Homo sapiens: one gene and its partners. The protein of the gene in region 2 interacts with the protein of the main gene of each other region in a biochemical or structural test. Each region holds a gene or a part of one and is shown on either strand. Other genes may lie near its edges.

Evidence for each region. The genes of interacting proteins can lie anywhere in the genome.
Region 1: of the proteins of UBE2E3 (region 2) and UBA1, one has a biochemical effect on the other in vitro, tested with the Homo sapiens proteins (3 studies listed by BioGRID, with this or other methods).
Region 3: of the proteins of UBE2E3 (region 2) and UBA6, one has a biochemical effect on the other in vitro, tested with the Homo sapiens proteins (one study listed by BioGRID).
Region 4: the proteins of UBE2E3 (region 2) and RCBTB1 form a complex in vitro, tested with the Homo sapiens proteins (one study listed by BioGRID).

Annotation. Positions count from the first base shown.
Region 1 is NC_000023.11:47,200,329-47,204,180, reverse strand, and holds part of UBA1 (ubiquitin-like modifier-activating enzyme 1), read right to left. Parts: intron 3,288-3,852; coding exon 3,181-3,287; intron 2,906-3,180; coding exon 2,815-2,905; intron 2,704-2,814; coding exon 2,571-2,703; intron 2,026-2,570; coding exon 1,928-2,025; intron 1,824-1,927; coding exon 1,677-1,823; intron 1,544-1,676; coding exon 1,367-1,543; intron 1,239-1,366; coding exon 1,134-1,238; intron 1,048-1,133; coding exon 967-1,047; intron 641-966; coding exon 485-640; intron 1-484. UniProt on the Homo sapiens protein: Catalyzes the first step in ubiquitin conjugation to mark cellular proteins for degradation through the ubiquitin-proteasome system.
Region 2 is NC_000002.12:181,060,597-181,064,622, reverse strand, and holds the end of UBE2E3 (ubiquitin-conjugating enzyme E2 E3), read right to left. Parts: intron 3,959-4,026; coding exon 3,811-3,958; intron 1,833-3,810; coding exon 1,735-1,832; 3' UTR 1,198-1,734; downstream 1-1,197. UniProt on the Homo sapiens protein: Accepts ubiquitin from the E1 complex and catalyzes its covalent attachment to other proteins. In vitro catalyzes 'Lys-11'- and 'Lys-48'-, as well as 'Lys-63'-linked polyubiquitination.
Region 3 is NC_000004.12:67,690,804-67,694,655, reverse strand, and holds part of UBA6 (ubiquitin-like modifier-activating enzyme 6), read left to right. Parts: intron 1-3,852. UniProt on the Homo sapiens protein: Activates ubiquitin by first adenylating its C-terminal glycine residue with ATP, and thereafter linking this residue to the side chain of a cysteine residue in E1, yielding a ubiquitin-E1 thioester and free AMP.
Region 4 is NC_000013.11:49,575,207-49,579,058, forward strand, and holds part of RCBTB1 (RCC1 and BTB domain-containing protein 1), read right to left. Parts: intron 1-3,852. UniProt on the Homo sapiens protein: May be involved in cell cycle regulation by chromatin remodeling.

The sequences.
Region 1 (3,852 bases), on a different chromosome or scaffold from region 2:
AAGAGGTTAAGGCAAAAAAAAAAAAAAAAAAAAAAAAAAAACAGAAGCTGAGGGAAAGAAAGGCCAAAAAGAAGGGCTTCTGGCAGAGGCAGAAAGATCTCTGACAGAAAGAATGGGAACAAGAAAAAGGAGGGGTGAGGTGTGGTGGCTCACGCCTGTAATACCAACACTTTGGGAGGCTGAAGCAGGCAGATCACCTGAGGTCGGGAATTCGAGACCAGCCTGACCAACATGGAGAAACCCTGTCTCTACTTAAAATGCAAAATCAGCCGGGCGTGGTGGCGCATGCCTGTAGTCCCAGCTACTCAGGAGGCTGAGGCAGGAGAATCGCTTGAACCCAGGAGGCAGAGGTTGTGGTGGGCCAGAGATCACGCCACTGCACTACAGCCTGGGCAACAAGAGCGAAACTCCGTCTCAAAAAAAAAAAAAAAAAGAAAAAGGAGGAAAGTGAGACGACAAAGCCCCAACCTCCTACCCTACTCACCGTGACATCCCAGGGCCGGAAAAGAAACTGTCGATTCAGATTTGACTTCTCAATGGTGTCCATGTCTGTAACGATGATTTCTCCACCCTCCCCGCAGCCCAGCCCAATCATGGCAAAGTTCTTGAGCAGCTCACAGCCAATGGCCCCCGCACCCACCTAAGAAGCAACCAAGAAGACAGGCAGAGGCTGGTCAGGGTGATGCAGGTTAGTGTGAAGCTACCCATCACCCCTCACTCCCCTGAGAGACGGGGAGAGGGGCTAACACCACATCTTCAGGTTGCAGGACTCTAAGAAATGACACGCAGTCATGTGAGGAAGGAGGCACCAGAAGGGGAAACGAGGGATGCACTGGGCTTCCCTTCAAGATAAGGAGAATGGCAAAGAGAATGCGCCACCGGTTGCATTGAGATGCCGAAGGAAGCCCCAGGGGTGATGGCCAGAGGCCAAGATGAGGGGAGCAGACATCCAAGGGGACCACTTACCAGGAAATACTTCTGCTTGCCCAGCTTCTCTTGCAGGTCTGAGCCAAACACAGCCACTTGCCCGTCATAACGGTTCTGGCGCTAAGGAATGCAAAGGGAGGAGGGTTAGAGAGGCCTCCCCAGAAATGTCCCCAATGATGCCCTCCCCACAGGTCCCACCCACATACCTGGAGGCACTTGTCCTCTGTGAGGACCTCTTTGTCCTCAGGGAGACACTCAAGGGCATCAAAGTATAGCCACTGCATGATGGGCATGAACTTCCCGGAGCAGGCCTGGAGAGGGGAAGGGAGAGAGGGGGTGGTCAGTGGTTAACAGGGGCCTGACACAGACAGAGAGCAAGTGACAGAGTCATGGAGGAACCTGGCCCACCCCAATCCTGCCTCTCCCCACCCGTGCTGACCTTCATGACTTCCTGGGCAGCCAGGCCCCCAATGAAGGCGTTTATGGGTGCCAGATCCCCAGCAGCCACATATGCCAGCTTCCGGATGAGGTCCTCGTCCAGGTTATTTTGCTGCACTGCTGGCAGGGCTCGAGCATTCACAGCCTGTGCTAAGGCTACCAGTTCTGCTGCATCCTCCTGGTGGGCCAGAAAGAACCAAGAGAGGATATGTCAGGCCACAGTGAGGGCAGGGAGTGTGGACACGCAGAGAGGCATGGTGAGCCTGCAGTGCCAGGCATGTCTGCGCTGGCTGGCTCGCCCACTCACCCACCTCATTGCGGGGCCGAGGTGGCCGGCCATGCTGAGCACAGAACTGGTGCAGGGCCTGGAAGCCAATGTGCAGCTGGGCAGGGCGAGAAAACTTGGCGAAGTCCGTCACCACAAAGTCAGGTTCTGCCAGTGAGGCCACCAAGGATTTCTGTGGCGGGGGGAGAGGTCATCAGAACCAGAAGAGAGGAATGGAGAACTAGGGAATGCCTAGAACCACCCCCCACAGCCCACTGATCCCATCGACACACTCACAAAGCTAATCTTCTTAGGTACTTTGACCTGACTGACGATGCCTCCACGGATGTAGTCGGAGAAGTTGGAGGTGTCACAGATGCTAAAGGTATAAGGACCTACAGAGGGCAGGAAGAGAGCTGTCAGTCTACCCATTCTCCCTAAAATCCACAACCCCTGCAAGATAAGGAACCTCCTGCCCCGACTCAGCTCAGACATCAGAAGCTGTCTTCCCTCAGCTCCAGGCTCCACTTGGACATCAGAAACCATCTCTCCTGTGCCCCAGACTCAGCTCAGACCCCGTGAGACCCTGTGTCCCTGGCTCCAAGTCTACACGGGAAGACCTTCTCTGCTTCCCATCCAAATCAGCTCACACACAAGTAGATCCGCTGATCTGCCCTGTTCAAACACCAGAGACTTTTTCCCCACTCAGCTCAGATACCAGGGACACATTCTCCCAGGAATAGCTCAAACACAGTACCTCTCCCCCATGCCCACCAGCTCTTATTGGACCCCACAGGATTGTCTGTAGTTCATCTCAAACACCAGGATGTGTCTTCCCAACTCTGAACCAAGGGCCATGTCTTCTCCCTTCAACTCCCCGGCCAGAACCCAGGAACATATCTTCTAGTTCCCCTCTGCTTCCCCCATGGTCGCAGCTCACCCAGGACTTTGATCTCCATGGGCTGATTTCCGTTGAGTTCAACCATGCCCTGTACTTCTGAAAAGGAGACAAAGTCCCCGCTCTCAAACCCGTGTCGGGCCTCATCCAGGCAGGTAACCACACCGGGGTTGTCCTGGTTAAAGGAAGAGTGAGTCTCAGAAACAGGCCCAGGGTACCAAGAGCAGACAGGAAGGACTACTGCAGCCCACCTGCCTGCCAGGAACCCTAGGGCTGGTCTCCTTACCTTGGTAACCATAGAAACCATAGCACTGAGTGGCTGCTCCCCATTGGAATCTGTGAGGATCATTTCCTCTCCAAAGTCACAGAAGAGCTGCCTGTAGAGGGAAGCAATAGGGCTGGTGCCTGTGTCCCATGCACATACAGGTCCCACGGGTCCCTCAAGATGTAGTGAAAACTTGCTGAGCAAACTCAGCCTATCACTGCTGGGATGTAAGATGGTACTTGTGCCACATGGGGAGAGATGAAAACACAGAACCCAAAACCTGGGTAGCTGAGAAGGGATGAGGGCAGGGAGAGCCTAGAGTCTTGGCCTGGGCTTGGTAGGAGTTGGGGGAAAAGGGGACAGGGAGGGAGGTGGGCTGCCACTCACCCAAACAGGCCCCGCGTGTCTGCCACCACCAGCTTGATGCCACGGTTGTGACAGAACTCACCCACTCGCAGCTGGTCCTCCAGGGGGGTGTTGGTGAGCACCACCACCTGTGGAGAGATGGAGGCTCAGGCCCAGCATTGGGGTGAAGGGGAAAAAATGGAGGGCTGGTGTGGAGGACTCAGGCAGTCCTCAAGGCAAACACATCCAGGCTTTGCTGGGTCAGCCTCTTTCACAAACACATAGCACCTACTGTGTATCAGACTCTGTGGGGGTCGAAAATGAACCCCTGGACTATACCAGGAAAGGTGAAGAGGTAGCTGGGAGGAGGGAGTTTGGAGAAGAGCTGACTCATTTATTTGACAAACACCCGCTGCTGTCTGTCTGCCATGCCCTGTGAGACACTGGAGTAAAACTCTGTCTCCAGCCAAAGTCTGAGCTCACTCCTACCACACCCACCTGCTTCCAATTCTCAAGACGACGCCTGCTCCGCCATGATCTTTGGGATTTTGCTCTCTGCCTGAATGTCCATCCTTCCCCACCAGGGTGAGCTCCTACTCCTCCATCAGGATTTAGCTGCAGTGCCCTGGCAACCTGGGATACTCCAGGGACAACTCTCAGCTTCCAGAGCACCTCTTTCCGGCCTGGACTTTTTAATTAACAAACACCCATCCA
Region 2 (4,026 bases):
AATTTTGGCAGTGGAGGAAAAACTACGGTTGATAAAAAACCTTACAACTTAAACGGTCTCCACTTGCATCACATTCACTTGGACTCCATTATAAATTATTAGTTAGGTTTTCACAGAGGTAAAGTCTGAATTCTTCAAAATAGTACCTTTGTATAGTGCTCCTCTGTAATAATGTTGGGGGTGGGGAGTTTAAGTGAAAAACAGATATGTAAGTGTAATTTTAATTTTACTCTGATATAAGACTTCTACTGACAAACAGGAGTCTGCTATTCTAGTGACACACACAACTACACGTTTTACTTTATCCGGAAGCATTTTTTATGTTAATATTTTCACTCTATACATTTTTAAGATGATACTTCATTTCCATATTGAGGACTGGAGAAGACACCTGCCCCATATACCACAACCTTGGTTACATGACCAGAGATGATTACCTTAGTCACAGGGAAACAAAACAAAACAAAACACCACCACCACACACAATTATACTCTGTTTAGCAAATCTAAATATTGCAAAGAAATTCTAACTTTCAAGAAATCTAACACTTCAGAATTACAACTAGAAAGAAGAAATTTAACCTTCTAAAAACCTTACAATTTGGTATTTTACCAATTGAGAAATAATATCACATCTGTACACTAACACAGTTCTAGTCTACCTTCAAGGCAGACAAAGATTTCTGTGTTCATCTCTGCCTCTGGCTGTATTTGCTGGCCACTTGCCATAGTAAGAATGGTAATACACAACATGAACATTCAAGACCAGGATTAGAAGTAAAAAGTGCATCACAGACTAGCTACCACATCACAGTTACCATCTGACAATATTGCCCAGTGCTGAACAAAAATCATCAATTTGGAAGCAACATGTTCCATAAGACATTACCAGATTCCTGAGTGAGCGAGCCAGGATTTCATATTCTTTTTGGCTTAAACATCATATTACCGAAGTACAACTTTATGTGTTTGAGACCAATGGGTCAAAATCCACTTTTGATTATTTAAGGTCATTCTTTCAATAACAAAGGAAAAAAACTCTATGCATTTAATAGGATTTTAAATGTTTTCAATTTAAGAATGGGTTTATTTGTGCTAGTCTTTAGTAATCTTCATAGCCACATTTTTACTTCATCAACAATCATCTCAGACACACTTTCTAACAAGACTGACTTAAAATATTACGACAGGAAACTATGCCTTCAGGAGCATGTTTATTGTGTTTGAGATGATACATCAGGTGCTCTCTGAGCTACAAAGGGTAAAAGGAAATCCTCTCATTACAAACTGACAAAGGTAAAAGGTAAAACATTTTTCACAACAGCATGAACCACATACTCAGAAATAGATCTGGGTTTAATACAAATGACATAATTCCTAGCCATCTACAGCTACTTTTATAACTTCATACAGATAATGAATTAGGCTAAAATGCACTATAATATTTGGTAGACTTCAGGACCAGTATCCTTAGTACATCACAAAATACATTTTGATATCCCAAAGAAGCAAGACTTGCAAGTAGGCGTTTTAAACATAACTAATCTACAGCTACAAAGTTCTACTCTTGATAGCATTTACCTTTTTGGGGAGTCTCCCAGGCTCCAAAGGATAAAAGCAGAGTAGAATCAGTATAACATATACACAGAAGTCCGTATTGTAAAGGCTATAAAGATTTGCAGCACAGTGAGAAGATGCCTTCTGCTCCTTCACACTGCATACAAATTATGTGAATTATGTTGCGTATCTCTTGGTCCACTGTCTGGCTATCCTGTCGTGTTCTGCTCTGTTGGTCAAATACTGAGTGGCTATGCTTCCAACCAGAGGATCCGCTGGAAAAGCAGAAAGAACATTAAAAGCTATTTTGTGGTATCTTCTTCAAGGTATAGTTCTAATATTCTATTAAAATGAAATGCTTATTTTTCAGCAGTATCTTCATATATAATAGCTAAATTTTCAAAAGAAAAAGTTTAAAGTAACATGATCATATGTATATTTTAATATTCCAGTTAGGAAAGTCCCCTTCATAAAAAAAAAAATGAATTTTGAGCTATATATAAAAAGTTAGATTTGACTTTTATAAAAGATATGTCTTTAATATACAAAAACTATTTTGTAATTTTGGCCTTTCATTCAAAATGGAAGTATACTAGGTGGTTATATTTCTGCTTATGAATAGTTCAAAAATGGTTAATTTTAAAATAAAACCCCAGTCTTACAATACCATGCTATTTCAAATAAAATGCTTCCTTCATTCTGTGCCTGATATGACTCTAATCACTATCAATATTTACACTTGAAAACTTACTTGCCATTTTGTTTTAAGTAGAATTCTGAACTAGAGAGTGAACCTGATATAAATTTTTATTTTGATGTTTAAAAACAAAAAAATATGTACATATGGTACAATATTTGAATTGTACCAAACCATAGCCAGTAAAAAAAAACTATCTTCCTTCCTGACTCCAACTGCTCAGAAGTTTCTTTCCCTGGCAAACAATTGTTACCCATTTACAACATTACTTCCCAGAGTTCTTACATGCACTGACAAGCATTTAGAATATTATGTTGTGTATATGTATTTTTTTCCAGTGCCTTTTATACTTAATATATCTTGAAGATATTTCCCTATTAGTTCATATAGAGTTGTCACATTCTTTTTAAACGTTACATCTATTAATGGGCATTGAGGTTGTTTCCAATACTCTAATAAAGGATACCACAATGAATATCCATCTGTCACTATCTATTGCATATGTATCTCTGCCGAGCATAAGGTAACAACAGTAACAGTCTTTAGTGACTTATCAAATATTTAGAAGTAAGTCAACTTAAAAAAAAAAAAAAGGTCACATAACGAAACAAAATGTGTGAAATTTCAGGTCTAAACATCACTTTATCAAGTCAGCTACCCAAGTTTCTGAAGTTCACATGTGGCAGGCATTTTTTAAAGTTATGAATTATACACAAATGATTTTATCTGAGGTTATATAATCATAATCTAGTTCAATTCTCATTGGCTATCATTTTAATATCCATTACTACTACACTTTATATAACTAATTAATTAAAAAAGGAAGGGAGAACAAGAAGCCTTCTATTATTAAAGTAGTTGCCTAAAAGCATACAGCAGCATGGAAGGAGCAGGAAAAGGAGGCACTGGTTTCAGACACATTGCTTTACTCTTGTTAGAAGTGGTCGGCCGGGCGCGGTGGCTCACGCCTGTAATCCCAGCACTTTGGGAGGCCGAGGCGGGTGGATCATGAGGTCAAGAGATCGAGACCATCCTGGCTAACAAGGTGAAACCCCGTCTCTACTAAAAATACAAAAAAATTAGCCGGGCGCGGTGGCGGGCGCCTGTAGTCCCAGCTACTCGGGAGGCTGAGGCAGGAGAATGGCGTGAACCCGGGAAGCGGAGCTTGCAGTGAGCCGAGATTGCGCCACTGCAGTCCGCAGTCCGGCCTGGGCGACAGAGCGAGACTCCGTCTCAAAAAAAAAAAAAAAAAAAAAAAAGAAGTGGTCTGTGCACCTAAATACTTTTAAAAGTAGAGATTCCATTAATGATGGTGACAAAATAATTATAGAGTGGTATGCCATTAACAAATTAAATGAAGGTATTGAGAAACTTTTGGCCTAGTCTACTTCAAATGGCATTGGTAATTTCCTCACAAACTGTTTTATGGGGATCTTTCTATGAATAACATTTACCTCTCAATCTACATTTAAAGCTAACTAAAAAAAAAAAAAAAAAAAAAAAAAAAGCACTCGTTTTTGTAGTCTTATTGTACATGTTAATAAAGATTTGCTTACCAGGGTTGCAGTCTGTCAAAAGGGAACAAATAGACAGCAAAACCTTTGAAATAGTCAAAGCGGGACTCCAGTTGTCTTTAAGGATGTCCAGACAGATGACTCCCTGACTGTTGATGTTGCAGTGATAGATTCTGGTGCGGAAAGTAACCTAAGCACAGTCACATTAAAAACAGAAGGAAAATGAATGCTGTATTACCAATTAAAACACTAAAAAAA
Region 3 (3,852 bases), on a different chromosome or scaffold from region 2:
GGAGGCCGAGGCGGGTGGATCACGAGGTCAGGAGATCGAGACCATCCTGGCTAACACAGTGAAACCCCGTCTCTACTAAAAATACAAAAAATTAGCCGGGTGTGGTGGCGGTGGCGGGCGCCTGTAATCCCAGCTAGTCGGGAGGCTGAGGCAGGAGAATGGCATGAACCGGGGAGGCAGAGCTTGCAGTGAGCTGAGATGGCACCACTGTGTTCCAGCCTGGGCTACAGAGCAAAACTCCATGTCAAGAAAAAAAAAAAAAGAAATACAAAGACCAAAATGCCAAAATGTGAGATTTTCACACAATAACCAGCTCTTATTTTCTTAGATTTTAAAAATTAACTTAAATGTTTGAGGGTTTTTTTTTTTATAGTGACTGAATCTGAAGATTTGGTAGTTTTGTATTTTTTCTTTTTTTTTTTTTTTTTTTTTTTTTTTTTGAGATGGAGTCTTGCTCTGTCATCCAGGCTGGAGTGCAGTGGCGCGATCTCGGCTCATGGCAACCTCCGCCTCTTGGGTTCAAGCAATTCTCCTGCCTCAGCCTCCTGAGTAGCTGGGACTACAGGCATGCACCACCACACCCAGCTAATTTTTGTATTTTTTTTAGTAGAGGCGGGGTTTCACCATGTTGGCCAGGATGATCTCAGTCTCTTGACCTCATGATCTGCCCACCTTGGCTTCCCAAAGTGCTGGGATTACAGGCGCGAGCCACCGTGCCCAGCTGTATTTTCTCTTTTTAAAAATCTGTATCTGTTGCTTATGGGGACTAGTATAAGACCTAGGACTTTGGACAATGATTTATTTTAGGGACAAGGCATGAAATGAGGATCCTTAGCCTCTTAATATCTCAGGGAGATAGATTTCATCAGTAAGCTTGATGAAGGTAGGGTAAGATAAAGATAAATTCCAGAAGTTCTCTTTTCTCTCCGTTCTCTTTCACACAGCCACAGTTCCGACCATTTTGTCTCATAGTACAAGTCCAAATACTATAGCTTACCGAGTTATTTTGAACATAACTCCAACTTACCTTCTAAAAAGTTATTATTGTAGTAAAAACACATAACATGAACTCTACCCTACTAACAAGTTTTTAAGTGTGTAGTATAGTATAGTTGACACTTGAACAATGAAGGAGTTAGGAGTGCCAACTCCCCTACCACCCTACCTCTTGTGCAGTCGAAAATCCACATATGACTTTTGACTCTCCCAAAGCTTAAATGCTAATAGCCTTACTATTGACTGGAAATTTTACTGATAATGTAAATAATCAATTAACACACATTTTTAATATTATATGTATTATATACTGTATATATATATATACACAGTATTCTTAGAATAAAGTAAGCTAGAGAAAATAAAATGTTAAGAAAATCATGTAAGAAAGAGAAAATATATTTATTGTTCATTAGATGGAACTGGATTATCATAAAGGTCTTCATCTTTGTTGTCTTCATGTTGAGTAGGCTGAGGAGGAGGAAGGGGAGGAGTTGGTTTTGTTGTCTTAGGGGTGGCAGAATCAAAAGAGGTGGAGGCAGAAGGGTAGGGAAAGAGAGGCAGGCACACACAGTGTAACTATGGAAATATGTAACTACTATGTGACTTTTTTTGCTTTCTCATTTCTGGAAAAATGTTTCTATACAATACTGATCCTCCTGTCATTTTCTTTAGTTTCTTTTTGGTGCCCCTGTTGTAGAAGGGTCCATGTCATTAAAGAAATCAATGCAATCTTGAATCGTCGGAACCCTTCTGCCAGATTGTCTGATGTCAGTAACAACGATAGCATCTTCAATGGTATAATCTTCCAGACTTTAATGATGTTCTCTTTCTTGGGGTTCTCTTCCATAGCATTGACAATCCTTTCTATAGAGTACCTTGTGTAATGAGCCTTAAAGGTCCTTTATGATGCCCTGATCTAGAAGCTGAATTTGAGATGTTGTGTTTTGAAGCAAGTAAACCACTTCAGCACCTTCATTGTTGAACTTTGGGGTTCTGGGTGGCCAGGTGTATTGTCCAATAGCAAAAGAACTTTAAAAGTTCTTGCTGGCAAGGTACTTCCTGACCTCAGAATCAAAGCATCAATGGAACCAATCCAGAAAAAGGGTTCTTGTCCAGGCCTGCTTGTTATGTAGCCGGAGGACTGGCCGCTGGTGTTTATCTTTTCCCTCCAATGCTCAGGGGTTAGCAGCTTTATATGTAAGGGCAGTCCTGATCATAAACCTGAAAGCATTTGCAGAAAACAGTAGAGTTAACTATCCATTTCTGCCTTAAATCCTGGTGCTTGCTTCTCTTCCTTACTAATAAATGTCCTTTGTGGCAATTTTTTTCAAAATAGAGCACTTTCTTCTACATTAAAAACCTATTCAGGTAGATATCCTTTCTCTTCAGTGATTTTCCTTATGGCGTCTAGAAACTCATTGCTGCCTCTTGATCGGCAGAAGCTGCTTCTCATGTTGTGTCTGACTTTTTTTTAAGACAAACCTCTTTCTAAAGTTATCAAACTATCCTTTGCTGGCATTAAATTCTACAGCTTTACTGCTTGGGTGATGGGTGCACCAAAATCGCACAAATCACCACTAAAGAACTTAAGTAACCAAACACCACCTGTGTACCCCAGTAACCTATGGAAAAAAAAGAATTCTACAGCTTTATATCCTTTACCTTCTTTTTGCTTTAAGTGGTCTTATAATGACTTCGCTTTTTCTCAAATCATGTTAGAGTCTATGACTTTCTTTCAGCAATCCTGCACCCATATCAGTGCTGCATTTTCAATATAAGATAAAAAAATCTTTCACAAAAAGTGTAAGGTTTTCATACTTGCTGGTGTAGTTACAATGATGGCTTTTCTTTTTTTTTTTTACAATGGTCCTTCCACTGGATTCATTTTATCTTGAAATGTCAGGCAACCATAGCTGCAGACCTCAGTCTACAGTACATAATCAAGCAATTCAACTTTTTATTGTAATGTCATGACTTTTCTCAGCTTCTTGGGAGCACTTGCAACATTACTGGTGGCACTTTGTATGGGTCCCATGATGTCATTCAAGGTTTACAGTATTGCACATTAAACATGATGAAAAAATATGCAAGAATCTCAAGACATCACTTTTTCCTGCAATATTCAATTTACTGGAGAGAGGAACTGCTCAGGCAAAGATGAATAGAGTCACATGTGCTTTAACCAGATACATCACTTAAGCTCACCACAATAGCAACTGGAAGTAGCTACAAAATTATTACAGTAGTGCAGTATGTACTACAGTGACTTTTATGCACTTATGACTGAATACTGCATCTTTACATCTGTTTACATTCCTCTTAACTGCAAATGGCGACATCTATGGTCTGTAAGTGTACGCATAGTTTTGATAAATTTTAACTTTTTATAATTTGTGTATATTTTATGGTAGTAAATGATAAAATAGACTAATATGTACATAGATTTCATGCATTCATGACATTTTCTTAATTTTTGGGTATTTCTAGGCTACAAAGTTCATCCGTGAGTTTTTTTCAAGTTGTCACAAATGTCCAAAAAAATTTTCAGTATATTTATTGAAAAAAATCTGCATATAAATGGACCTGTGTGTTTGAAACCCATGTTGTTCACGGGACAACTATATTTTTAACTCTGTGTACATTGTCATATAGCAGATCTGTGTAGCAAATATTTCTTCAAGATCTTGTTTCTAATTCTTTTGGAGAAATAACCCAAAATGGAATTGCTGGATTATGTGGTAATTCTATTTTTTAATTTTTGAGGAAGCTTCATACTGTTTTCCATGGCAGCTGCACCATTCTACATTTCCAACAGTGCACAAAAGTTCCAATTTCTCCACATTGTTGCCAATA
Region 4 (3,852 bases), on a different chromosome or scaffold from region 2:
CTATCTCACACCAGTCAGAATGGCCATTATCAAAAAGTCAAAAACAAAAGATATTGGCGAGGCTGTACAGCAGAGGCAACACTATACACTGTTAGTGGGAATGTAAATTAGTTCAGCCACTGTGGAAAGCAGTTTGGAGATTTCTCAAAGAACTTAAAACAGAACTACCATTCAACCCAGGAATCCCAAGACTGGGTATACATCCAAAGGAAAATAAATTGTTCTACCAAAAAAAAAAAAAATGCACCTGTATGTTCATCACAGCACTATTCACAATAGCAAAGACATGGAATCAACCTAGGTGCCCGTTGACAGTAGATTGGAAAAAGAAAATGTGGTATATATACACCATGGAATACTACATGGCCATAAAGAAGAACAAAATCATGGATGCAGCTACAGGCCATTATCCTATGTGAATTAACACAGGAACAGAAAACCAAATACCACATGTTGTCACTTAGAAATGGGAACTAAATATAGGGTACACGTGGATATAAAGACAGGAACAACAGACACTGGAGACTACTACAGGGGCAGGGAGGGAGGGGTACACAGGCTAAAAAACTACCTATTGGATACTATGCTCACTACCTGGGTGACGGAATTATTCGTACTCCAAAGCTCAGCATCACACGCTATACCCATGTAACAAACCTGCATATGTACTCCCTGAATCTAAAATAAAAGTTGAAATTGGGTCAGGTGTGGTGGCTCACGCCTGTAATCCCAGCATTCTGGGAGGCCAAGACGAGCAGATCACAAGGTCAGAGATCGAGACCATCCTGGCTAACACGGTGAAACCTCGTCTCTACTAAAAATACGAAAAAATTAGCCGGGTGTGGTGGCGGGCACCAGTAGTCCCAGCTACTCGGGAGGCTGAGGAAGGAGAATGGCATGAACCTGGGAGGCGGAGCTTGCAGTGAGCCAAGATTGCACCACTGCACTCCAGCCTGGGCGACAGGCGTCGCAAAAAAAAAAAAAAAAAAAAAAAAAAAAAGTTGAGATGATTTTTTTTAAGTAGTCTAGAGATTGATGGTGGTGATGATTGTACAACAATGTGAATGTACATAATGTGACTAAAATGTGTAATTAAAAATCATTAAAATGGTAAATTTTACACTATATACCTTTTACCCCAATTTTTTAAAATCAAATAATCATCCTGTGGGCTTTTATCAAGACTGCATTAATAAACTCAAAGATACATTTCTAAAATTAAATATAGAAAGGTTTCAGTCCTAAAAAATGTGTTTGGAAAAGTAAAATCATACTGTTTTAATCATGTCTTGAGAATATAAGTTCAGATTAGGGAAATTCTCAACGGAGCATTTATAAAAGAAATATAGCCTTCTTAGAATTTTCCAGTGCATACAGCAATTTAAACCAGACCAAACAAATTGCTAAGATGACAGGTCCTTCCAGGGCTTGTCATCTTGATAATTATAAAAATGATGAGCTGTAATTAGAATGTCAGTCATCTTTAAATAGTTACTTCTGAAGTACCTCACTAAGATAGTAATTTTTTTGCAAGCCTTCCATGTTTTATTTAGGAAATACTTTCTGAAAAACAATATTAATGTGTTGCAGCCTGAATTACCACTCTTTATGAGTTATTATTAGGTGAATCAATGACTTTTTTTTTTAACTGTATAAAGATAAAACAAGGGTGCAAGGAAAGAAAAGAGGAACGCAAAAATGCAAGCAGAGGTAGAAAGAGTGTAACGTCCTTAAAGATAATATGCCAACCCACTTGGCTCTTCGTATTTTCTCTGGCACTTGAAAATACATCCTGTATCCCCACTGCACTTATCCTACGTCCATTAGTCCTACAGATCAATATCCCATTCCCTGGGATGGCTTATCCTAGCTATTGGCACTGTCCCTCAGAGAACTTGTGGCATGAGGAAGAAAAGGTTATTTTACTTTATACTCTGAAAGCAAATTCAGTCAGGACAAACACAGGCCTTCCAATTTTAGAAATCTACATTTAGAACTGGAAGGCTGAAGGAGTAATGTAGCAACTAATCTTTTAATTCCCCTAAGAGCACATTTATTTTACTTTCCCCAAGGAACAAATATTAAGGAAAGGCTAATTTTATTTTAGTTTATTTTACTGATCTAGCAAAAATATATTTCAACATGCTTATGGAGATTTTAAAAACAACAGGAAATGGAGAGAAATGGTACAGGAAAACTGGTTTTGATGAAATAATGTTCTCAATATTAAACAACAGTGGAAATTTAGGGTTGATCTGTAAGCACATGGCTTCCACACAGACCTCAACTAACCAGAATGTATTTGTTTGGGCTAGTTTAAATTGCTGTTATGTACTGGCTTTTAAATGCCACCAATAGGGTATTCTACCTTTAGATCTGGCTTCTACTGACCTTAGAGCTAAGGAAAAGAGTGGGAAAAGAGTAAGCAATCCTTCAGCATTGGCGAGCACCAAGATTCTGACGCTTCTGGTGTCATTTTAGAAGCATGAAATGAGTTTGTGTCATTCTTTATTATGGAAGCCGATAGCCAGAGGAAACTGGAAGGGCTCTGAATGTTGGAACAATCATTTTAAGTAGCCTAAACATTCTTCAGCATACAAGCTACAGCAAGCTTTAAACTACTCAAAACAGCAACTTCTAATATGCAAAATGATATTTTTAATTGCAAAAACTTTGAATTAAAGCATTTACACATACACTGAAAATTCCTAATAGAGGTTTCTCTATTTTTGTAAACTGAATGGGTGATGATTTTATTTATCAGTTTAAGTTGCTAAGCTGTCTTACGAAAAAAATTTATTTATAGTTAATGAGCTAGTGATAAAATCTAAAGGGCCTTGGAAAAAAGTACTATTGTATGCTAATGTGAACAAAATCCAGTTGTCCCTCAGTATCTGTGGGGGACCGGTTCCAGGATCTCCTGCAGATACTAAAATCCACAGATGCTCAAGTCCCTGATAGAAAATGGCATAGTATTTGCACATAACCTACACACATCCTCCCATATACTTTAAATGATCTCCAGATTACTTATAATACCTAATACAATGTAAATGCTTGGTAAATAGTTGTTAACGTTTATTGCTTGGGGAATAATGACAAGAAAAAATACTCTACATGTTCAGTACAAATGCAATTTTTAATATTTGCAATTTGAGGCTGGTTGAATCCACAGATGTGGAATCCATGGATACAGAGAGCTGACTTTAATAGCATACATTAATTCTTCTTCTGCAATGACCCCAGATACCAACAATGCCAGGGACATCATAAAGAATACAATCATGGTCTCTGCCTCTGAGGAACTGAAGGTCTAATGGAAAGTCAGATCCTAAGTAAGTGGAAAACTAGAATGCAAATACAACTGGAATAATTAAGGAAATGAATGTATCATGCAAGTATATGGTCCATGTGACACATGTTAATATGTCAAATAGGAAATAATTATGTGCAAACTAGTGACAACTATATAAAAATTGTATATAACAGAAAACAATTACACGAAATCCCAGAAACCAAATTCTCCATATTCCAGCAGATGATAAAATGTGAGCCTTTCCTCAGTGAAGATCATCCAGTTTCCTAGAAGAACAAAGTGTTCTTCATAGCCTTCTTCCTTTTTTAGCAATAAATGTTCCATTTGAGCACAAAAGATTGAAGGGTATGACAATCTTTATTTCTGAATCCATTTAATTCCAGAAAAACATTCAAATAAGAGAGCTCTACGGTTTGGGGTAAACTTTGGTATACAACATTACAACTTAATGTCTTCCATCTATGCTACAGCAAAAGCAATTCAAAAACCCTCTCAAGGTACAAACAGCCAAATGTTACTCTTACCAATTTCTTACA